Linked DNA regions of Homo sapiens. The protein of the gene in region 2 purifies or fractionates together with the protein of the main gene of each other region. This does not show direct contact. Each region holds a gene or a part of one and is shown on either strand. Other genes may lie near its edges.

The links.
Region 1: the proteins of ZCRB1 (region 2) and NOP53 purify together in Homo sapiens (affinity purification with mass spectrometry; 2 studies listed by BioGRID and IntAct, with this or other methods). This does not show direct contact.
Region 3: the proteins of ZCRB1 (region 2) and ZBTB11 purify together in Homo sapiens (co-immunoprecipitation; 3 studies listed by BioGRID and IntAct, with this or other methods). This does not show direct contact.
Region 4: the proteins of ZCRB1 (region 2) and KRI1 purify together in Homo sapiens (co-immunoprecipitation; 3 studies listed by BioGRID and IntAct, with this or other methods). This does not show direct contact.

Annotation. Positions count from the first base shown.
Region 1 is NC_000019.10:47,741,429-47,748,582, reverse strand, and holds the start of NOP53 (ribosome biogenesis protein NOP53), read right to left. Parts: upstream 3,038-7,154; 5' UTR 3,024-3,037; coding exon 2,800-3,023; intron 1,617-2,799; coding exon 1,552-1,616; intron 1-1,551. Other genes in the region: EHD2 (EH domain-containing protein 2), read right to left, coding at 7,151-7,154. UniProt on the Homo sapiens protein: Nucleolar protein which is involved in the integration of the 5S RNP into the ribosomal large subunit during ribosome biogenesis. In ribosome biogenesis, may also play a role in rRNA transcription.
Region 2 is NC_000012.12:42,311,552-42,316,097, reverse strand, and holds the end of ZCRB1 (zinc finger CCHC-type and RNA-binding motif-containing protein 1), read left to right. Parts: intron 1-2,111; coding exon 2,112-2,224; intron 2,225-2,332; coding exon 2,333-2,408; intron 2,409-2,899; coding exon 2,900-3,031; 3' UTR 3,032-4,012; downstream 4,013-4,546.
Region 3 is NC_000003.12:101,648,378-101,653,158, forward strand, and holds the end of ZBTB11 (zinc finger and BTB domain-containing protein 11), read right to left. Parts: intron 4,562-4,781; coding exon 4,403-4,561; intron 4,295-4,402; coding exon 4,119-4,294; intron 3,307-4,118; coding exon 2,789-3,306; 3' UTR 512-2,788; downstream 1-511. UniProt on the Homo sapiens protein: May be involved in transcriptional regulation.
Region 4 is NC_000019.10:10,562,974-10,570,622, forward strand, and holds the start of KRI1 (protein KRI1 homolog), read right to left. Parts: upstream 3,038-7,649; 5' UTR 3,027-3,037; coding exon 2,933-3,026; intron 2,918-2,932; coding exon of another isoform or gene 2,818-2,917; coding exon 2,744-2,817; intron 2,062-2,743; coding exon 1,956-2,061; intron 1-1,955. Other genes in the region: CDKN2D (cyclin-dependent kinase 4 inhibitor D), read right to left, coding at 4,085-4,444, 5,540-5,680.

The DNA.
Region 1 (7,154 bases), on a different chromosome or scaffold from region 2:
GAAGTCTCCTGTACCTCAGGGCAGCTCCTTCCACTCTATCTGGTCACTGAACCAGGTCCGCTCATTTTCATTAAAACATACCCTTTGACTGATCTCACACAAGCTCACTCTCTTGCTCATTAAAGCAGACCCCTTCGCTTGCTTCCAGGCTGTTCATTAGAGCAGATCATCTGTTCTTAGTTTGTTTTTCTACATATTGAAGTAAACACTATTACTCACCAGAGCAATCCCTCCCTCACGCCTCATCTTGTTTCAGCAGATCCCCACCCTACATTCTAGCAACTTAAGGCAAGCAAGTTAAGACGTGTGTTACCCGCTCACTAAAGCAAGTCCTCTTATTCCTATTAAAGCTCATCTTGGCCAGGCGCAGCGGCTCACGCCTATAACCCCAGCACTTTGGGAGGCCAAGGCGGGTGGATCACCTGAGGTCAGGAGTTTGAGACCAGCCTAGCTGACATGATGAAGACCCATCTCTACTAAAAATACAGAAATTAGCCAGGCTTGACCAGGCGTGGTGGCTCATGCCTGTAATCCCAGCACTTTGGGAGGCCGAGGCGGGCGGATCACCTGAGGTCAGGAGTTCGAGACCAGCCTGACCAACATAGAGAAACCCCATCTCTACTAAAAATACAAAATTAGCCGGGCATGGTGGCACATGCCTGTAACCCCAGCTACTCAGGAGGCTGAGGCAGGAGAATCGCTTGAACCTGGGAGGTGGAGGTTGCGGTGAGCTGAGATCACGCCATTGCACTCCAGCCTGGGCTTGAAACTCCATCTCAAAAAAAAAAAAAAAAAAAAAAAAAGAGAGAGAGAAAAGAAAAGAAATTAGCCAGGCTTGATGGTGCAGCCTGCAGTCCCAGCTACTTGGGAGGCTGAGGCAGGAGAATCGCTTGAACTGAGATCACACCACTGTACTCCAGCCTGGATGACAGCGCAACACTGTCTCAAAAAAATAATAGTAATCCCAGGCTGGAGTTCAGCGGCGCGATCTCGGCTCACTGCAACCTCCACCTCCCAGGTTCAAGTGATTCTCCTGCCTCAGCCTCCCAAGTAGCTGGGATTACAGGTGCCCGCCACCACAACTGGCTAATTTTTGTATTTTTAGCAGAGACGGGGTTTCACCATCTTGGCCAGGCTGGTCTCGAACTCCTGACCTCAGGTGATCTGCCTGCCTGAGCCTCCCAAAGTACTGGGAATACAGGCGTGACTCACCGCAACCGGCAGGACTGAGTTAAGCAGGTCCTTGACTTGCTTTTCTGCAAGCTAAAAAGAGATCCTTTAATGTGTTTCTAACTTATTCATCAAGGCAGACTCCCAGCAGCTTATCTGTGCATGGAGATCACTGACATCTCAAAAGAAAAACCTGCCTTCTCTAAGTTCGTCTCCAGCTTGCTTTCTGCCCATTTGAGGTCCCCTTGTTTATATTAAGGTTGACCTGTTTCCGCAGATATTTGCCTTCCAAGCCACATCATTAACACAGATCTCAGAGGCTACCGTAAGCTGACTAACAATGAATAACCGCCATTCCACACCACAAAAGCCTCTCCTCACCTTTTTCCTTGGAGCCAGTGTCCACGAAGAAGAGTTTTTCATTTGGGGCCTCTGACAACAAGCCACTGGGGGACAGAAATGCAGAACATCAGCCAGAGATGTTGGAGAGGAAAGAGATTTAACCTGGCAGGTCCAGCCTTCATCTTCCGCTTAGTCAAGTCCCGCCACCGGACTCTTCCAGGCTAAGGCTTCGCCCAGCAGTTTACAGAACTTAGTATTTAGGAAGGACTGCCAGGCGCAGTGGCTCACGCCTGTAATCCCAGCACTTTGGGAGGCCCAGGCGGGTGGCTCACCTGAGGTCAGGAGTTCAAGAGCAGCCTGGCCAACATGGTGAAACCCTGCCTTTACTAAAAATACAAAAATTAGGCTGGGTGTGGTGGCTCACACCTGTAATCTTAGCACCTTAGGGGGCCGGGGCGGGTGGATCACCTAAGGTCAGGAGTTCAAGACCAGCCTGGCCTGTAACATGGCAAAACCCTGTCTCTACTAAAAATACAAAAATTAGCCGGACGTGGTGGTGCATGCCTGTAATCCCAGCTACTTGGGAGGCTGAAGCAGGAGAATCACTTGAACCCAGGAGGCAGAGGTTGCAGTGAGCCGAGATCGTGCCATTGCACTCCAGCCTGGACTACAGAGAAAGACTCCGTCTCAAAAAAAAAAGAAAAAAGAAAAGAAAAGAAAAATAGCCGAGCGTGGTGGCGCCCGCCTGTAATCCCAGCTACTAAGGAGCTGAGGCAGGAGAATCGCTTGAGCCTGGGAGGCGGAGGTTGCGGTGAGCTGAGATCGCGCCTACTCCAGCCTGGGCGATAGAGCGAGACTCCGTCTGAAAAACATATATATATACATATATATACACACACACATATACACATATATATATACACACATATACACATATATATACACACACATATATACATACACACACACACATATTTAGAAAACAGCAAGCTAAGGTGGATGCATGGAACGTATTTATGCTAAAAATTATTCATTGTTTACCTAAAATCCAAATTTAATTGAGCGTCCTGTATATTTATCTGCTAAATCTGGTAACTCTATCAAGCTCTCCAGCTTCCCATGCTGAGTCCCCTGCCCATGCTCTCCATTTCCTCGGCGGTCCCCGGGACAGGAGCCCCCAACCCCCGACCCCCGACCCCCGACCCCCGACGAGTCCACGCAAGCACGCCTGGCCTTGCACCTGGGCGCAGGAACCGTCCCACCTCCCGGAAGTCCCGCCCAACGTACCCGCTCGTGCGCTCCTGTAGCCGCACGTCTTCCAGGAACTGGTCAACCTCCAGCCCCAGCGGCTCCTGAGCAAGCCGCCGCCAGCCCCGCTTCTTATTTCTTGGGCCTCGCCGCCGCCGCCTCAGCGCTGGGTCCACCGAAGTGGGCCGCAGCCCCAGGAAACCAGAATCGGCATCGCTTTTCGAGCTGCGCTTCCCACCAACGCCACTGCCTCCTGCCGCCATCTTGTCAAAGGAAGAACTCAGCCACTGGCGTCCCAAAAAGCCCCTTTGCAGCGTGCGCGCGCAGATTTCCCACCCTCTTCCGTGACGTACTTCCTGTGGCAGCCATATTTATAAAGTGACTGGAGTTGCCAGGAGGCTGCCATCTTGGTAAAGGATAAATGGCTCCTCCTTCCTCCATTCTTTACAGCGGGATCTGAAGATTCCTAACGGCGGCGGGTGGTAGGAAAGAGACGGGAAGGTTGCAGGTTCTTAGCTTTCGCCCTTAAGCGAACACCTTTCCCGGCCGCCTGGGGTCTTTGCTCAAACTGATTTTTTTCTTTAATAGATAAGGTCTCACTTTGTTGCCCCCAGGCTGGAGTGCAGTGGAAGGGTAATGGCTCACTGCAGCCTCCAACTCCTAAGCTCAGGGATTCTCCTACCTCAGCCTCCCGAGTAGCTGCGACCACAGAAGGGTGCATCCGCACCTGGCTAATTTTTTATTTTTATTTTTTGTAGAAATGGAGCCTCCCCATGTTGCCCAGGCTGGTCTCAAACATCTGGTTTCAAGTGATCCTCCTTCCTAGGCCTCCCAAAGCGCTGGGATTACAGGCTCACACCACCACTCCCGGTCCAAACTGATGTGTGTGTGTTTTTTTTTAAGAGACAAAGGTCTCACTATGTTGTCCAGGCTGGTCTTGAACCCCTGGGCTCAAGTGATTCTCCCTCCTCAGCCTCCGAAAATGCTAGGATTACAGATGTGAGCCACCATGCTCGGCCTGATTATTTTTTAATCTCGTTTTCTTAGAAAGTCAGAACCGTCAGTGGCAGATTCCGCACAACACACATTCCAATCTCAGAAGTTTTGTCCTCTCAAATGTTCCAATCCTAGGATCTTAGAAATCAAGTAACTTTCGGAATATCAAAGTTGGAAGCACAGAACATTAGAGGAATGTTAGAAACATACACTTTTAGGACCCTAGAAGTGCAGACTCAGAATCATTCATCTTGAGCGGGCTACTTCACTGTGCCTCAGTTTCCTCATCTGTAAAATAAAGATGATAACAGTACATCTGCGTCATAAGTCATGCAGAAGATTAAACATATGTAAAGCGCTTAAGGCTGCGTCTGGCATCTGAGTGTTAGCTATTGTTACTGCCTTGCCCTCTGAGGCTTCATCTTAGAATCAACTCATCTTTGTCATTTACAAATAAGGAAGGAAGCTCAGAGGCTCTTGGGCCCTGGCAGCCATTCAAAGGGATCCATGGCAGGGCGTGGTGATTCACGCCTCTAATCCCAGCACTTTGGGAGGCCGATGCAGGAGGATCGCTTGAGCCCAGGAATTCAAGACCAGCCTGGGCAACATAGTGAGATCCTGTGTCTGCCAAAAATTTAAAAATTAGCCAGGCGTGATGGTGTGCGCCTGTAGTCCCAGGTACTCGGGAGGCTGAGGTGGGAGGATCGCTTGAGCCCAGGAGTTGGAGGGTGCAGTGAGCCGTGATTGCACCATTGCACTCCAGCCTGGGTGACAGAGCAAGACCCTGTCTCAAAAACAAAACAATCAAATCAAAGGAATCCAGGCCTCATAAAAGCCACTCTGGACTCATAAAGGAAAAAGGCACAGAGAGGGCAGGCGACACACGCATGGTCACACAGCGAAATTCAACTGGATCCTTGCGCAGAGCGTTGGAAAGGTGACAGGCCCTAAAGGTGACAGGCCCTGGATCGCAGCCCCGAGACCTGAGCGCCGAATCACCTGGGCAGGGATTTTGGCGACCACAGCCTATCTGTTTTCTGAGCGTCCGCCAGGGGGCGCCGCGAGCCGCGAAACTGGGCCCGCGTGGGCGGGATGAGTGCGCGGCCAGCGTGTCCCGGGACGCCGTGGGTGTGGCCTGGATGTGAGTGCGCGGGACTCGGCGCGCACGGTGCGCTGCCCAGCTCTGGCCAAGAGTCCCCGGTGCGTGAGCGCGCGCACACTCCTGGCAGCCCGTGTGGGCAAGGTCACCACTTCCCCAACCAGAAACCAGCGTGTTCCTGGTGTTACGCGTCGGGAGTTATGTACCCAGGTTGTGCAAGGGCACGTTGCCGGGCAGGGCGGGAGCTGGGAGAGCACTTCGTGCCCGAATACACACACACACACACACACACACACACACACACACACACCCCGCGCGCGCCCCAGGGCTTGGTTCCCAGGCCCCCGCCGCGGGAGGTGGGAGGAAGGGATGTCCCGGGGGGAGGGCCCCAGAGTCACTTTTCCTCGGAAAATATGCCGTTCTGGCCCCCAGCCCAGGCCTGAGTCACCAGGCCTCGCTGCATTGAGTCACGGACTCCACCCCGCCCCTGAGAGCACGGAAGGGGGCCTCCCCCCACCCCAAATCCTGCCCAGGTCTCTCTTTCCCTGGGGGAGGGCGGGCGATCCCTGTCCCAAGCCAGCCTCACTGCCACATGGGAAGAAGCCTTGGCTTTATTCGCTCTGTGGGGACACTGTTCCGTTCAGAGGCCCCTCCCAGCCATGGGGTGGGGGACAGTGGTGGGCGTGGGAATCCCAGCGAGCATCCTGGAGGGTGCGTCGTCTCCATGTATTTTGCTCTTCCCCATCTTTTCCATGGGGTCCCCTGCCAGGGTCAAGCACTAATATGTGGTGAAGGCAGCAAACAGCGTCGGCGTCCCTTTAGGGGTGGGGAGAGGGCTGTAGCACCAAGAACCCCCTCCCCCGCCCACGACATCCCTGAAAAGGAGACTAAAATAAAGCCCCGGGGCCTTTCTACGTAGGGGCTCCACTTAAATATGGAATGGTGGTAGGCAGAGAGGCGGTGGCCCAGCAATCCTTAAGTCCAGATTACCAGCTGTGGGGAGGCTTCCAGGGGGCCAGGAGCAGGCTGGGCAGTTCCAGCCACAGACACGTGGGTGGAGGACGGAAATATCTCCAAGGGGGCACAGTATCAGAGGAGCAGGATGGAAGGGGCTTTTCTGCCTGCTACGGGATCCTTTTTAAAGAAATGGGTGTGAAGCCGGGCACGGTGGCTCATGCCTGTAATCCCATCACTTTGGGAGGCCAAGGCGAGCAGATCACCTGAGATGCGGAGTTCGAGACCAGCCTGGCCAACATGGTGAAACCCCGTCTCTACTCAAATACAAAAATTAGCTGGGCGTGGTGGCGCGTGCCTGCAGTCCCAGCTACTCAGGAGGCTGAGGCACGAGAATCACTTCAACCCAGGAGGTGGAGGTTGCAGTGAGCTGAGATCTCACCACTGCACTCCAGCCTGGGCGACAGAGCAAGATTCTATCAAAAAAGAAAGAAAGGACAGGACAGGAAAGGGAAGGGGTGTGGACAGAACTGGGGGCAAAAACAAAAAAGAAGGAAGGAAGGAAAGAAAGAAATGGGTATGGGCAGAATTGGGGGCAAAAACAAAAAAGAAGGAAGGAAGGAAAGAAAAGAAGGAAGGAAGGAAGGAAATAAATGGGTGTGGGCAGAATTGGGGGCTTTCCCCGAGCAAGGGAAGGGGCTGCGGAGGGGCCCATCTGAGGAAGCAGTAGGTGTGTCTCCCCTCTGAGCCCCCCATGGTCCCGAGACCTGAGGATGTGATGGAGCCGGTTGAGGGTGTTGCCTGGCTGGGCAGGAGGAAGCGGAGCAGAAGGGGGTCTGTTTATCTGCTAGTCATTTCAGCCACAGGGCTGCTCAGCCAGGGGAGGGGCTGGGGGCCCTGCCAGGAATTAGTGTGTGTTTGCGTGACTGTGTAGGTGCCCTCTCCTGGGAACGTCACCTTCCATGAGGGCAGATGTATTTGTCTATTTTGTTCTCTATGGTAATGCCCAGTGCCTAGAACAGGGCTGGGCACATAGTAGGTGCTCAATAAATATTTGAATGAATGACGGATGGATGGATGCCTGCGTGTGCCAGTGTGTGTGTGATGTGCCTAAGTGAACGTGAGGCTGGAGGTGTGAAGGGCGGACAGAGAAGCCTTGTCCCTCCCGTGGTCCCCTCTAAATGCTTCCACCGGGGTGTCTGGCGGTAGTGAGGAGGGAGACCCCCGGTCCTTACAGCTGGGCAGGGAGGGCAGGCAGGGCGTGTGTGAGCCGGAGCAGGGGTGTGCGTGCAGCCGACTGGAGCTGGGGAGCCACAGCAGGGCCATGGGAGGGGGGCCGGCTCAC
Region 2 (4,546 bases):
CATAAAATAAAATACTTAAAAAACAGAGTCCAGAGGTAGTAATGGGGAACTGGGGAGAGAATCACTGAAAGATACCGTCCTGGCTACAAAATCACATGGAAGATGCAAGGAAATGGCTTGAGGTCCTCTACCCCACTGTCACTCCCCATACCCCCGACAAAAAAGATAACTAAATAAACAGACTGATGGATGGATGAATAGAAAGAGTGAGCAAGCAGTTGCTTGGATACATACTGATTCTGTCAATTCCTATGATTCTAAAACCTCTTAAGTAAACACTTTAGAAACTTTTCCAAAGTTTTGAGTTTTGTAAAAGAAAGAAAGGGAGGGAGGGAAGGTAGTTATATTCAGATTAGTATATATCTTCATATTCACAGTAAATATTAAATTATCTGAGAAATCCTAGATGAATCTGTTAATCGGTTCCTTTTGGTTTATGGATCCATAGAGTTGTTATATTTTTTACATTTTTATATTTAATTTCCCTCCCTCCAAAAAAAACTTTTTTATATTGACCTAGCCTGGTTTTTCTCAAGTTATTTCATTAAATCCTTTTTTAGTATGGGATATGTTAATTTTTTTTTGCTATAATATTATTCCAAAACAGTTTCAGATATGTGTCTCTATTTTCTCAGCAGCTCATTAACAGTAAGTAACCTCTTTAAGTTGGGCTATGTCCTAGGTATACAAAGTGCACAGTCTGTCTGCTCTGTCAAATATACTGGAAAAGCATGATTATTGTTCCCTTCTATTGTTCTAACCTTGGCTCAGTCCCCACACCCTACCCTGACATAACCTCTTAAATGGAATTGTAGTGAGCTGATGTCCAGATTATAGTTGAGCTCTTATGTTTTACAAATCAATGTTCTAGCTAAGTAGGAATAATAGCCTAGTCCAGCATTGTCAAATGAGAATATAATGCAAGCCACGTATGTTACTAAGTCTTCAGAAATCCAATGTGTATTTTACCTTTACAGTACGTATCAATTCAGACAAGTTCTCAGTAGCCACATTGGCTGGCTAGTGACTACTGTAATTGGATAGTGCAAGTGTAGTCAGGATATAAAAGGGAAAAAACGGAAGTAATTCATAGGAAAAGTGAGGAAGAAATTTTCCATTTGTTTTTTGGTTTTTTGTTTGTTTTTTGAGACAGGGTCTTGCTCTGTTGCCTAGGCTGGAGTGCGGTGGCACAATCTCAGCTCACTGCAGTCTCTGCCTCCCGCGTTCGATCAATTCTTGTGCCTCAGTCTCCTGAGTAGCTGGGATTACAGGCATATGCCACCAAGCCCAGCTAATTTTTGTATATTTAGTAGAGACAGGGTTTCCCCATGTTGGCCAGGCGGGTCTTGAACTCACTTCCTAAGGTGACCCACCTGCCTCAGCCTGCCCAGCCCAACAGAGTATTAAGCAACATCTTGGAAATTAACAGGAATAGTTTTATCCTCGTTTTATCAATAACTTAAGATGTTTACATTTAGGGTAAATGATCCATTTAAATTTTGATTTTTTTTTTTTGAGACGGAGTTTTGCTCTTGTCACCCAGGCTGGAGTGCAACGGAATGATCTCAGCTCACTGCAACCTCCACCTCCTGGGTTTAAGCAATTCTCCTACCTCAGCCTCCTGAGTAGCTGGGACTACAGGTGTGTGCCACTTATGCCCAACTAATTTTTTTTTTTTTTTTTTTTTTTTTTTTTTTTTTAGTAGAGACGGGATTTCACCATTTTGGTTAGTCTGGTCTCAAACTCCAGACCTCAGGTGATCCACCCACCTCGGCTTCCCAAAGTGCTAGGATTACAGGCGTGAGCCACCGCGCCCGACCAAACTGTTTTATATCTTGAATTTTGAGATTTAAATGTTTGAAAGAAGACTACTACCACTACTCTTAGTAAAACTACTAAATAGTCCTAAATGTTAAAATAACTGAGAGTTATAATATCACCTTCTAAATATTAAAGTACTGGGTTTTATCATTAATGTCTTCTGTATAGTCCCAGTATGGGAATATTCCTTTTTAAATTTGAAAACTTTTTAGTAATAAGGTACCAGGCAAGTTTTTATAAATAACATCAAATATGGTATTTTTCCTTTCCTTTTTAATGGGAAACAAAAGGAAAGTGGACACTTAAGTTATGCCTGTCCGAAAAATATGCTCGGAGAACGTGAGCCTCCAAAGAAGAAAGAAAAAAAGAAAAAAAAGAAAGCTCCTGAACCAGAAGAAGAAATGTATGTATATTATTCTTACTAAATACATCATCATGTTGCTTTTGTCTTTTGGTTGGTTGCTTTTGATTATTGGTTGGTTACATTCCAATTTGTTTTTCTTTATTTAAGTGAGGAAGTAGAAGAAAGTGAAGATGAAGGGGAGGATCCTGCTCTTGACAGCCTCAGTCAGGCCATAGCATTCCAGGTATTAAATTGTTCTTTTAAAAGGCATCATACAATAGTTGACTTGGTTTATAGTGCTTGCTTACTTCATTGATCACCTCATGGCAACCTCTCTTTTTCCCCCTAACCTCCTAAGCCTTAGGAGACAAGCTGTTTCTCTGAGGTACTTAGCCAGTGTGAATGAAAAGTTCCCATTGGTTCTTCCTAGATTTTAAGGGCCCCACAACACTTACTATCTTAATCTTTTTTCATTAAAGAAATGAGCAGAACTATTTGCTCAAAGTGAATATAGCCCAACAGAAAAGATTTTTTTAAGAAATTGCCTAGGATAATTTTGTGTAAGATTTTGAGATGAGACAGAACTCAGGGGAAGGGAGCAGATCTTATTGTCTGCATGGACTGGGAGGGTGGGAAGTAATGGCATTTGTGGTATGTTTTTGCCATGTTTTGAATTAATGAACCATAAATAATATTAAACAGGTTATTGGTTTTGTTTTGTTTTTTGAATCACAGCAAGCCAAAATTGAAGAAGAACAAAAAAAATGGAAACCCAGTTCAGGAGTCCCCTCAACATCAGATGATTCAAGACGCCCAAGGATAAAGAAAAGCACATATTTCAGTGATGAGGAAGAACTTAGTGATTAAAATCTTGCCCCAGCACAGTAATAAAAATCAAGATTTGTTAGTAACAATCTTGAAGAGCTAATTTTAATAAAAATAAGAAAAATTAATACTATCATGTTAATACTATTATTGTCATCCCAAGAAAAAAGATATTTTAAAAATTTATTTGAAAAGTTCATTATAAGGGCTTTATTCATGCCTGATTTGTTTACATGAGGACTTCTGAAATTAATCCTTAAAACAAACTTCCTGAAGACCGAAAAGTTGAATGATTTATTGTTACTTATATTAATAAACTTTTCAAGAGAATTTTGTCTTTAAATATGGGTGTTTTGTCATCATATTTCTTGTAGCTTTATCCCAATCTGGATAAATTGTAAATACCTATAAAATAAATTATAAATACCTATAAAATATAAAGTAACATAGCTCTAAAAGGCTTAAAATCAAACACAGGTGTTATTTGTCTGCCCTACCCATAGCACCAAATTCCATTCCCTAGAAGAAACTACTTACATGTGCACACATGTAGCTAAATAAAGTACATATATTTCAGTCACTTAATAAAAGAATAAAGGAGAATTATTCAATCTCTTATACTTCTCCTACCTTCCTCAATATTCCCAATGTGGCTGTATTAAAAATTTGGGGGAATCCATATATATCTTTTTTAATAACCAAGTAAATACTTTTCATTTCTGAGCCAAGGAATATGCTATGATTACGTTTTTTCCTAGAGTTAATAATTGTCTATTTTTTTTCCATGTATTGTCTTTGTATTTATGACTAAATCTTCCCATTCTGTCTGCAGGTGGGTATATGGTAATGGGATTAGAGAGCCTTTAATTTTCTGCTTTGTATATTTCTATATTGTTTAACTTTGTAAGAATGCCCATTACTTTTTTAACTAGTAAAAGCAATAGAAATAAGTTAATACTATCATAGTAATATTATTATTGTCATCCCAAGAAAAAATATATTAAAAAGATATTTGAAATTTCATTATAAAATCTTGTGTTTCCACTTTGAAAACTACAAAGTGTTAACCACCCACCAGCAAAGAATCTTCCAGATTGCAACAAGACAATGATTGAATGCAGTACTCAACCATCTGTTTGGCCATTAGTCAAATACCACAACAGTTTTGGTTTGTTTTTTTTTTTTAATTTTTATTCATTTATTTATTTTTGAAACGAAGTCTCACTCTGTCGTCCAGGCTGGAGTACAGTGGTGCGATCTCAGCTCACTGCAACCTCCACCTCCCCGGTTCAGACCATTTTCCTGCCTCAGCCTCCTAAGTAGCTGGGATTACAGGCACGTGCCACCACACCCAGCTAATTTTTGTATTTTTTTAGTAGAGTTGGGGGTTTCACCATGTTGGTCAGGCTAGTCTCAAACTCCTGACCTTGTGATCCACCCGCCTCGGCCTCCCAAAGTGCTGGGATTACAGGCATGAGCCACTGTGCCCGGCCTACCATTTTAAAGCAAATAATTGGGAAAAGATTTGCCACAAATATATAAAAGTTTCTATGAATA
Region 3 (4,781 bases), on a different chromosome or scaffold from region 2:
ATCAGGAGACACCCATAGTTTTTGGAAGTCATCTCATGACAGCAATATGCTTTATGTTTCTAAAAAGGAATTGTTATAAATTAACAATGCCCTCTTGGTAACATTAAAACTGCACTGAATTTTTGGAACCTTCTTAACATTTGTTTCTACATGGAATTTATATAATTTACAAATTTACATTATTCAAAGCTGATGGTTGATGGCACAATATATAATCCTGTGACAAGATTATGAAAAGGAAGTTCCCAGATATCCTCACAGGACATGAGACAGGGGTGTGGCTCATTTGTTCACCCAAACCCCTTACAGGAGGGGAAGCATGCAGATGGGCAAGTGCAGGAGCTGGATTGAGTGCTTTTGGGCTCTGGCCCCACAGTAGCATCTGGTGGGGGGTGTCTGCAACTCCCAAAGCCCCAGTGGGAATGTTACAGGGCTCCTTTAGCTCTGCTGTCTACAGATAGCTTAAGTGTTAACTAGCTCAGTGCCCTCTTGGTACCTGCGTTCTTGTCCAGCGTCCAGGAAGAATCAGGTCACATGGACAAATTGAAGGATGGTAAATGCAGGGGATTTTATTGCTGGATAAAGGTGGCTCTCAGCAGGATGGATGGGGAGCTGGAAAGGGGATGGAGTGGGAAGATGATCTCCTCTCCAACCGTCCCCAGCTGAACTCCTCTGGACGTTTAGATGCTCCTCTCTTCTCTCCTCTGCCGCAACACTCTTCTGCTCATGGAGCCTGGGGTTTAGGGTTTATATGGATACAGGATAGGAGGGCGTGGTGGGCCAAAAGGCAACATTTGGGCATGAAAACAGGAATGCCTGTTCCCATTTAGGGCCATGGGTTTCCAGGCTTTTGCTGGGGAACTGCCCTCTTCTACCCATTATTTCCTTGCCTCTTGTCCATATCAATTATATGTAAGAGTAAGAAGTTTTAATATTGTGTTCCTCCAATCGTTATTTTTTAGTGTTTTATTTCCTTTCCCTTTAAAAATAAATTAACTTAATAACACATCAAGTAACAACTGATTTATGAACTGAAAATAGTAACAAGCTCAACTCCAAAGTTCATGCTTTTCAACAAGATTCAACATCTTTTATTTACATGTTTATGACATACATTAATGGTCATACACAATTTTTAAACTAAATCTAGTAACAACAGAGGATGGAACATAAAAGACACAATTCCAAATTTTAGTCAGGTTGAAATGTTTTTCCACTAACTGAAAGATAAGATAAATGAGCAGCCATTATAAAGTTATGGGCTGTATGTCAATTCACGTCTTAAAATTGAAAGTCAGCCACACAGCTGTTAAAACAATGGGAAATTTGCAAATGCAAATATATAATGCATGCACAGCTATCACATTTATTCTTTATCCTTAAAGCCATTTTTAAAGTAAACTGGGAGAGGCAACTTAGTAATATATGTACATCAAGGCACATTCTTTTCTTGTGCTTTAGGAATGATTTACATGTGATCTGCTTATATCTTAATTTTATACTTTATAACAGCTTCTAATACCTAAAAGCTTAATTTTTAACAATTATTCTTTGAGTGGTAGTTTCCCAGAGAGAAATGTGGCATCTCTCATGGTTATTTTCAAAGTCAGAAAATTGGATAGCTTGAGGAGGTGGGATTTAAAAATCAAACATATGAATTAATATAACTTAGTTTTCATAACCTTTAAAAATAATTTATCTTCAACAATTTAGTGGAACTGTAATCAATTTCTTCAAGTATGATACTATGAGGGCTGCACTGAATAATTTTCAACATTCTGAAATTACCTGACAATTACATGGTATCCACAGAGCTGCTGTGAATGTCTATATTGCTATCTGATTTCTCAACTGCAGTTTTTCAACCAAATTAAACAATTAAACATGATACAAAAGCTGAAAACATACCAAATCTAGTTTGTTTGTTCATTAACTTGTTCATTCTTTGCAAATAATGAGAATTTTTTTTTCCATTAATTGTCCTATGTTATCAAGGAGAATTTTCCTGTCAACAGTGTTTAATAACTGTGTTCTTTTCTCATGGTCAATTTACTTGCCTTGAAGAAATAGTATAGTAAGGTTTTAATAAGCATTTCATGCATTTTAATGGCATTTTAAAAATTAGCTATTCATTTATGGGTTCCTCATATAGATAAATATATTGTGCAAACTTGATTACAACATGTAACTCATAAGTGCTTTAAAATAGAATAAAGCATCCCTGACTTAAAAGGGGATAAAATAAATAGTAAGTCAAGAATCACAGATCTAAAGCATTTAAAAAACGTAATATACCTATGCATCCTATTGAAATGCTTTATATTAGAATTTTCTTTTTAATCCATAAACAGGGCAAATAAATCACAGAATCTCTATATTTTGAGAATAAAACAGAAGAAAAGCCAACTGGTGCAGCCTTTTAAATGCAAAATGTATAATAAAGTAATGTCAAAATGCAAATGAAACTGTACGGTTTTAAATTCAGTACAGTCATTTATAAACATTAATTCATAAAAGGTATATCATGATAAACCACTGCCATCAAATATTAGGTTGGTGCAAAAGCAATTGCACCAACCTAATAGATCTGTTTTCAATTTCTCTACACTAAACGGACTTTTCTATAGAACCCATTGGCCAGACAAAATGTTTGGAAACGTTACGTTACCAAACAGCCCAGAACTTTGATATGTAAACTCCAAGCAGACAGTCACACAGAATTGTAAACAAATGTTCTGTGAGTTCAGTGTACAAGAGATGTCACTTCTTTTTATCTTCATTAACATACTCATTCTCCTCCTGAAATATGTGCTACCTCTACTTTAACAGTTTGAATAGCTTCTGCAACTTCAGATAGCTTCTGTCCTTGCTGTTGTGCTAATACATAATTAACCACTTGCATAATACTTTGGTCAGAAAGTGTAGATACCGATGGATACTCTTCAGTAGCTGCAACAGCTTCCAGAGCTTCCATAGTTTCTCCTGTCACTACCACAGTCTCAAGTTCTTGAGGACCACTGCTTTCTTGTTCCTGCATGCCTGCTGTTAAGATGCTAACAGCATGTGCCACTTGAGTTCCTTGGTTATGAAACTGAAGGGTGTCTTTTTCCAGCATAATTTTGCAAGGCACATAGTCTCTGTGGAATTTAGTCATATGTTTACGGAGTGTTCGAGCATCTATGTAGGCTTCGCTACATACAGGACAGACATAGGGCCGTTCACCAGTATGTGTTCTGACATGGCGTTTTAGAGATCGGGCATCAGCCCAAGCTACTCCACATGTTAAGCACTCAAATGGCTTAACTCCTAAAAAAAAAAAAAAAAAAGCATGTGTAGTGAGGTGCAAGCACCAAAATATACTTAAACTGCCTACCAAACTTCCTTTTATTAAAAAGTACAGTAGCTCATAAGCCTTTCTATCTGGACTGTGGCAATCTTTTATTTAGGACTTTCCTTAGAATAAAGAAGATTCTTTGCCGGGCACGGTGGCTCACACCTGTAATCCCAGCACTTTGGGAGGCCAAGGCAGGTGGATCACCTGAGCAGTTTGAGACCAGCCTGACCAACATGGTGAAACCCCATCTCTACTAAAAATACAAAAATTAGCCCAGCGTGGTGGCGGGTGCCTGTAGTCCCAGCTACTTAGGAGGCTGAGGCATGACAATCACTTGAACCTGGGAGGCAGAGGTTGCAGTGAGCCAGGATCGCGTCACTGCACTCCAGCCTGGGTGACAGAGCAAGACTTTGTCTCAAAAAAAAAAAGAATAAACAAGATTCTGAACTATAAATCTCTCTAAAGATCTTCCTGCGGACAGATGTGATTGAGACAAATTTTAGTTTCTGTGCATAAACTCATTTATTCCTTCATTCCTTCAAAGCAGAGGCTTCAAATAGTTTAGTTCAGCATAACAATGTGGATACAGAATTAAGTTCACTAAAAAAGGAATCTATTTATATACACAATAATTAGGTACTCAGGTTCAGGATCACCTCTGTCATTTGAATAAAGATATGAAATTAACCTTTTACCAAGGAAGGTGAAAGAGCTGGTAAAGGGAGAATCACTACTGGACTGGCTTTTATTCTATAAGGATACATATAATATAAAGTATAGTTACCTTCATGGTTGTTCATGTGTCTCCTATACTCTCTTAGCTGAGTGAATTTTCTTCCACATTTTTCACACACCCGTTCCAGGTTTTGCTTTGCTCTTCCTTTCTTCCCATGGGTAGCTTTCTTTACATGCCTTCTGAACAAAGCTTTTTCATAAAATTCTTTGCCACATATATTACACCTAAAATAGGGGAAAAGACCCAATTATTTTGTCCAAAGAAGTAGCAGCCATAACAATCAGAGTACACACGTTATCAATTAAGTTCAGCTCCTTCTCAAATTTACTCACCTATAAGGCTCAGTGACAGAATGAGACTTCACATGGGAATACCAATCTTTCTTCCAACTATAGCACTTATCACAAAATTGGCACTGGAATGGCTTCACACCAAGATGTTTGTTCATGTGCTGGCGAAGATCTCTAGCTTCAAAGAAACTTTTTTCACATCTGCAATAAAGTTCAGTTACCCAATTGGATAATCTTATTCCTTTAAAACAAGTTTCCAAGAACTCAGTAACTATTTTTAGTTTTTTAGAACTCCAAAAGATGATCTCAACTTAAAAGAATTCCCTAATTTTCTAATCTTACATAAAGGCTACAGGGTTTTAGGTTCTTTTCATCTTAAGACTACTAGAAATGTTTTAGAAAGAATCGTGCATAGTTCCCA
Region 4 (7,649 bases), on a different chromosome or scaffold from region 2:
TTGTGCTTGTCACCATCTGGTGGGGTTGGGGTCATTCAGTCAGTAATTCCTGCTTTGATTATTATTATTGTTGTTATTATTTATTTACTTATTTTTTTTTGAGGTGGAGTCTCATTCTGTTGCCCAGGCTGGAGTGCAATGGCATGATCTCGGCTCACTGCAACCTCTGCCTCCCGGGTTCAAGCTGTTCTCATGTCTCAGCCTCCCAAGCAGCTGGGATTACAGGTGCCCACCACCGCGCCCGGCTAATTTTTATATTTTTAGTAGAGATGGGGTTTCTCCATGTTGGTCAGGTTGGTCTCGAACTCCTGACCTCAGGTGATTTGCCTGCATCGGCCTCCCAAAGTGCTGAGATTACAGGCGTGAGCCACCGCACCCGGCCATTATTATTATTTTTTTGAGACAGAGTCTCACTCCGTTGCCCAGTGCATGGCGTGACTTGGCTTACTGCAACCTCCGCCTCCCAGGTTCAAGCGATTCCCCTGCCTCAGCCTCCTGAGTAGCTGGGATTACGGGTGTGCACCACCACGCCCAGCTAATTTTTGTTATTTTTAGTAGAGATGGGGTTTCACCATGTTGGCCAGGCTGGTCTCGAACTCCTGACCTCAAGTGATCCTCCCGCCTCAACCTCCCAAAGTGCTAGGATTACAGGCATGAGCCACCATGCCCAGCCTGATTAATTATTATAATTAATTTTTTTGAGAGTTGGAGTCTTACTCTTGCTCAGGCTGGAGTGCAGTGTCAACATCCTAGCCCACAGCTCACTGCAGCCTTGAACTCATGGGCTTAAGCAATCCTCCCACTTCAGCCTCCCAAATACCTGGGACTATAAGCGCACACCAGCATGCTCAGCTGAGTTCTGAATCTTTTGTAGAGATGGGGTCTTGCCGCCAGGCACAGTGGCTCACGCCTGTAATCCTAGCACTTTGGGAGGCCAAGGCGGATGGATTACCTGAGGTCAGGAGTTCGAGACCAGCCTGGCTAACATGGTGAAACCCCATCTCTACTAAAAATAACAAAAAAATAGCTGGGCGTGGTGGCACGCACCTGTAATCCCAGCTACTCCGGAGGCTGAGGCAGGAGAATCGGTTGAACCGGGGAGGCGGAGGTTGCAGTGAGCCCAGATCATGCCATTGCACTCCAGCTTGGGCAACAAGAGCAAAACTCCGTCTCAAAAAAAAAAAAAGAAAAAAGAAAGAAAGGCTGGCTGGGCGCAGTGGCTCACGCCTGTAATCCCAGCACTTTGGGAGGCCAGGGTGGGCGGATCACCTGAAGTTGGGAGTTCGAGACCAGCCTGGCCAACATGGAGAAACCCTGTCTCTACTAAAAATCCCAAATTAGCTGGGCGTGGTGGCGCGTGCCTGTAATTCCAGCTACTCAGGAGGCTGAGGCAGGAGAATCGCTTGAACCTGGGAGACGGAGGTTGCAGTGAGCTGAGATCGTCCCATTGCAACCCAGCCTGGGCAACAAGAGTGAAACTCCATTTCAAAAAAAAAAAAAGAGAAATGGGGTCTTGCTATGTTGGCCAAACTGGTCTCAAACTCCTGGCCTCAATTGACCCTCCCACCTCAGCCTCCCAAAGTGCTGGGATTAGATGCTTGAACCACCTGCCCAGCCTGGTGGAGTTGGAATCATTCAGTCAGCAATTCCCACCTTGAATAGTGCCAAGGACACAGTCATTAACTCCACCACCAGGTAATAACCTAGGCTCTGCTAAGGACTTGTGACTTGTGAAGCAATTCATTCAATAGTCAAAACAGATGAACTGTGTAAACTGGGTAAATCCCAATCTATCCTTAAAACAGCCCTGAGGGGAGATGCTACCGTTAGATATACTTTACAGACAGGAAAAGAGGCTCAGAGAAGTCAAGTCACTTCTCTGAATCCACAGTCAGGAAAGGACCCCGGATTCTGCTCCAGAGGAAGGAGAGGTTTAGACAGGAGTGGCCCCGGACCTGTTCTGTTATAGAAGGTGGCATCTTTCTGATAAATGCGGGGGTCCTTCTTCTTCAACAAGGAGAGCGTTTTGTAAAAGTCCCGCTCCTGCTGGGGATCAAATTCCTAGGGCAGGAAAAGGGTTGGGGATAGATTTCAGAAGGGAGATAATAAGAGCCCTGGCGCCAGCAGGTGAGCTCAGCGTAGGGATTAGGATGGAGGGGGGTGGATCTGGCTGGGGAGGTCAAACAGGTGGTCAAACAGCAGGAGGGAGAGGGGCCCTCTTGGGGTGGGCAGGGGCAGGCCACAGGTAGGTACAGGATATGGGTAGAGGAAGGTGAGGGGCAAGGAGAAGGTAATTCCTGGGGAAGACAAAGACTTGACAAGGGGCAGGTGGGCTGAGGGCACAAGAGAGACAGCGGGGAGGGGCTGGGCCAGGCCGCACAGTGGGGCCAGGATCAGGGCTGATGTGAGAAGTTGGGCGCCCCACGTGGCGCAAGGAGTACACTAAAAAATGGCTAGACTCTTGAGGATGAAAGAGGAAAGGGGGGGTTCTTGGGGGACAGAGTCGCCCCACACATCAGAGTGGGCAGGTGGGGATCGTGGCAGGGGAGAGAAAATAACGGGGATTTGGCTCCCCTGGGGAGAGGGGGGGCACTGTCTGTCCCTCATGGGATGGGGAGCGGAGGATGGGACGCTCCCGCAGGGCGCTCTGGGGTTGGGGGTTCCCCCCCGTCTACATCGGGGTCGGGGTGCAGAGGGGGGCTTGGACGCCTCCGCACGTCCAGGACGGGGCGGGGACGCGCACCACGCGCTCGTCGCTTGAGTCCGACTCGGAGCTGGAGTCGCTGCTGCTGTCTCGGTCCCCGTAGCGATCCTTCACTGCGGGACACAGACGGGATGCCCCCCCCCAGGTCAGCCGGCGGGGCCACTCGACTCCCCACTTCCCAACCGGCCGGCGCGCGCAGGCTCCCGCGCGCATGCGCCCCGCACTCACGCCGCTGCAGTTCCTCGCGCTCCCGGTAGCGGTTGTACCGCGCGGCAAACGCCGCGTTCACCCGCAGCTGCGACGACCCGCGCGGTTCCGGCATGGCGGTTCTGTGGCCCATTGCGCACGCGCATTGAGGAAGCCCTGGACGGGGCGGGGCCGCCCTCAGTCCCGCCCGCATCCACTTGTAAACGAGGCGTACCGCTGCTAACCCCGCCCCTGGCTTTTCCGGGATCCCTTTCGCCTCATCACCGCAGTCACCGCCCACGGCTACGCCCCTGCGGGGAAGGCCGCGGCCACCGCCCACCCGCCCCACCCCCTGTGCTCCGGGCACCCAGCTGACATCTGGGGGCCCTTTCTCCACTCGCGGTTTCCTGCTTCCCTTCCGTTCCGACAGCGAAAACCGCTGCCCCACCCAGCTCACTCACCCTGGCGCCCTGGGAATTACTATTCTCTCCCCTCACCCACCACATCCACGATCCGCGACCCCCGTCCTCATCCCCATCAACATCCGGGATGTGTAACTCTCCATCCCAGACTCAAAAATCAGAAGCCACCCGTGCTGTGATCATGCACAAGTCTTAATTTAATGGGTAAAAACATTAAATTATTACAACATTTTTTCCAATAAAGCATAATAAATAGAATCCATTTCTTTTAAAACGCTGTACAAGAGACTGGAAAACAAGCTTCCAACAGAATATGAATAACTCATAACTCATTCTACCTTCTTATTGATTTGGGACGCTCCCCCCACCCCCCATGCCTGAAGCAACGTGCACACTTCAGGTCTCTGAGCACAGCCGGCCAAGGCCACCAGCTTCTAGGCTCCCTGGAGGTCATGACTTCACTCTTAAATGCTCTGCCCTTGGGTCTCGTCTGAGGCCCCAGCAGCCTGAGGCGCAGAAGAAACTGAACCGTTTAGGTGGCTGTGGCCTGCAGGAGCCCTTCTCTGTCCAACACACCAAAAGGAGTGAGAAAAACAAATGAGAAACGTCCCCCAAACACTCACACCCCCAAAACCAACACCTATAAGCCACAAACTGTGCTCCTCCCCTACTGCAGCAGTGGGCAGGAGAAACAAGAAGAGAAAGTGTTTCTTCCCCTCTCTTCTGATACATAACCCCACGGGGTTCTCTTGCTGGAGAGGGTGACCCCAGATCACAGCGGGGCCACCATGTGGCCCTGCAGGATGTCCACGAGGTCCTGAGCCCCTCTCTGCAGTGCCAGCTCCAAGGGTGTGAGACCCCTGGCGTCCCTGCGATGGAGATCAGATTCAGCTGCCAGAAAGCTGACCACAGCAGTGTGACCCTCTTGAACTGCCAGATGGATTGGAAGTGCCCCGGTGCCATCAGGCACGTTGACATCAGCCCCGTGCTCCACTAGGACCTTCAGGGTGTCCAGGAATCCAGTGCGGGCTGCGTCATGGACTGGACTGGTACCGGAGGTGTCCTGGACATTGGGGCTGGCACCTTGCTTCAGCAGCTCCAGGGCGATGGCGGTGCTGCCAAACATCATGACCTGTGTGAGGGACAGAGGATCAGGAGGTCCTCAAGGGAGGAGGTTCCACAAAAGGGGTCACTGGAAAGAGAAGGGTCATCCAGAAAGAGGCATCTCCCAGAAACAGGAAATGCTAGAGGAGGGGTCCTCTAGTGAACGGAGAAGCTGCATAAGCCCCCAGGAAAGTTCTTCTGGGAATAGGGACCCCCCCCAAAAGCTGGTCACTCCCTTAAGAATGAGACCCCCCAACCCAGAGAACAGCCCCCCATGGAAACTTTCAAGGAACCTAAGACTCTCCCCCAAGGGACCAAAGACGCCCCCAGATATGGGCAATCACCAGGAAACAGAAAATCCCCTCCAGGAAATGGGCCCCCAGAGATGGAGAACTACCCCCAAAGAATTGATAGTCCTCATAAGGGAAAAAAGATGTCAAAGGAAAGCGAACCCCTTCTCCAGGAAATAGCCTCCTCCTACATAATGGTGATGTCACCTCAGAGTACCTGAGAGCTCCTTTCAAGAAGCGGGATTCCAAAAGTAATAATAAAAGAGAAACGAGACTTCCCTGTAAAATGTCTCCCAGGGAATATAGGGATGTCTTGCAATCTGACATTGTTCCTCCATTGGGGCCCCCATACTATATCAAGGATCCGCATAACCTTTAGGAATGAAGACCCCACCCCCAAGTAACCAGATTTGTCTCAGAGAGCCCCCTACAAAATGAGGAACCCCTAGAGACAGGACCTCTCCTTCCAGAGATCGGATCTCCCCATAGAAGCCCCAAGAAACGTGAGCCGTCCCCATGGAAACGGCATCCAAAGGAGCTGAACCCGCACCCACGGAATAAGAACCTCCCCAGGGAAAGTGAATCCCCGGCACTCAGAGAACCAGGAATCCTCCCAGAGAAGATGCTAAAAAGCTCTCCCCTCCCCCCACAACCTAGCCTCACCCACCACCCACCTTCGAAGGGGGACTGTGGGGGAACAATGAAAGCCTAGAGAAGAAGGACCGGTTCCCAGTGGGTCACCACCAGGGCCAGGAGACCAGAGAGGAGCTCTGGGGTCTCGATCCTCATCCCGCTTAGCCGCCCCGCCCCAACCTGGACCGGCCCGGCCTCACCTGCAGCGCCGTCTTGCCGAAGCGGTTGAGGGCGTCGGGATGCACCAGCTCCCGGTGCAGAAGGCGGCGCACCTCCTGCACGTCGCCCCGGGCCGCCGCCCCACTCAGCCGGTCGCCGGCGCGAACCTCCTCCAGCAGCATGTCGACACTGGCGGCCTGCAAAGCCCCCCGCCCCGCCCCAGCCCGGCGCTGTCAGCGCGGAGCAGCCGGCGGGCGCTGGCCCGAACAGCCCTCCCGGGGCGCGGCCGCGGTGCACCCGGCTGCGCTGCTCTCCCGTCCCGGCTCCCCAGCCCGAGACCCCGGCCCTCCCGGCGGGCTCCTCCCCCTGTCAGCCGGAGGACGGCGAGGGGCTGGGAGCCGGGCCCAACCCTCGGCCGCCCGCGGGGCCCTGCCCGGCGCCCGCCCCTTGGGGGCCGGGTCTCCCCCTAACTCACCCTCCCTCCTCCTCGCCGGGCGGGGTCTGCTCTGAGCCTGCGCCGCCGCCGCCGCTGAGGCAGCCGCCAGGGGGCGGAGCCAACGTGCTCCCGGCCACGCCCCGAACGCAACTGATTTGTTTTCTTACAAACTCGCTACTGTGTAGCGGCACCGCGTTGCCCGGCGCGCGACCTTACGGCGTTCCGCCCACAGGGCCTGCATAACCAGTGGCTGCGCGTCGCCGGGGAAACTTCGGGCTCGGCGTGAAACGCGTCGCTCCTGATTGGTCAGAGTGTGGCAACCGGTGGACCGCCGGCAATGGCGGGGTTTTCGGTTTTCAAATGAACCCGGCAGGCGGGAAAGAAGGCTGGTTTAACTGACCCAGGGAGAAAGGTCAGGGGCAGGGTCGCGCGGGCTGCTCTGGGACCTCGGCGCCTCCTGAGGGAAGGGAGGCAGGGCTGGAGCCACCCAATCCGAGGTTCCACTACTAATAGACATTCATTGGCCCTTACTACGAGCTGGGCGCTTTATTTCATTCATTTATTCATTCACTGTGTGCAGGGAGCGTCCTGGGAGCTGGACGCGCACATTCAAACAACCAAATAATATTAGATAGTGTCAAGCACCGTGAAGAAAGGGAAACGGAGAGACGGAGTGGATGAGGAAGGGATCACCCTGCCGGGCTCAGACTGAGCCAGCAGGAAAGGAGCCTGCAGCTGCCACGTGGGAAGGCCTGAGAGGACATAGTCGCAGCCAGACAGGGACTCAGAGGTCTTCGTTCAAATATTTACTTAGCACCTCCTAGAGGGGCCCGAGTGGAGAGCACGCCAGTCGGCCCCTGCTGCAGGGACACCTATGGTCTGGGGCCAGAGACAATAGTTAATTTTTATTTATATATGTATTTATTTTTGAGTCAGGGTCTCACTCCTGTCACCCGGGCCGGCGTGCAGTGGCGCGATCACAGCTCACTGCAGCCTCGACTTCCCGGGCTCAAGTGATCCTCCTGCCTCAGCCTCCCGAGTAGCTGGGACTACAGGGCGCACCACCACGCCCGGCTAATTTGTGTTTTTAGTAGATATGAGGTTTCACTATGTTGCCCAGGCTGGTGTTTTTTGTTTGTTATTTGTGTTTGGCTTTTAAATACAGATTTTTTTTTTTATGTTGGGGTTCTTGCTTTGTTGCCCAGGCTGGTCCCGAATTCCTGGGCTCAACGGATCCTTCTGCCTTGGCCTCCAAAAGTGCTGGGATTACAGGCGTGAGCTCCTGCTCTCCGCCAATAGTTAAATCTTTTTAGAGTGGTAGAGGACTGACCAGATGAGCCATTGAAACGGAAAGGCAAAAAGCCGGGCGCGGTGGCTCACACCTGTAATCCCAGCACTCTGGGAGGCTGAGGTGGGCGGATCACGAGGTCAGGAGTTCAAGACCAGCCTGACCAACATGGTGAAACCCCGTCTCTACCAAAAATATAAAAAATTAGCCGGGCGAGGTGGCGGGCGCCTGTAGTCCCAGCTACTCGGGAGGCTGAGGCAGGAGAATGGCGTGAACCCCAGGGGGCGGAGCCTGCAGTGAGCCGAGATTGCGCCACTGCACTCCAGCCTGGGCGACAGCGAGACTCCGTCTCAAAAAAAAAAAAAAAAAAAAAAAAATTAGCTGCGCCTGGTGGCACGCACCTGTAATCCCAGCTACTCAGGAGGCT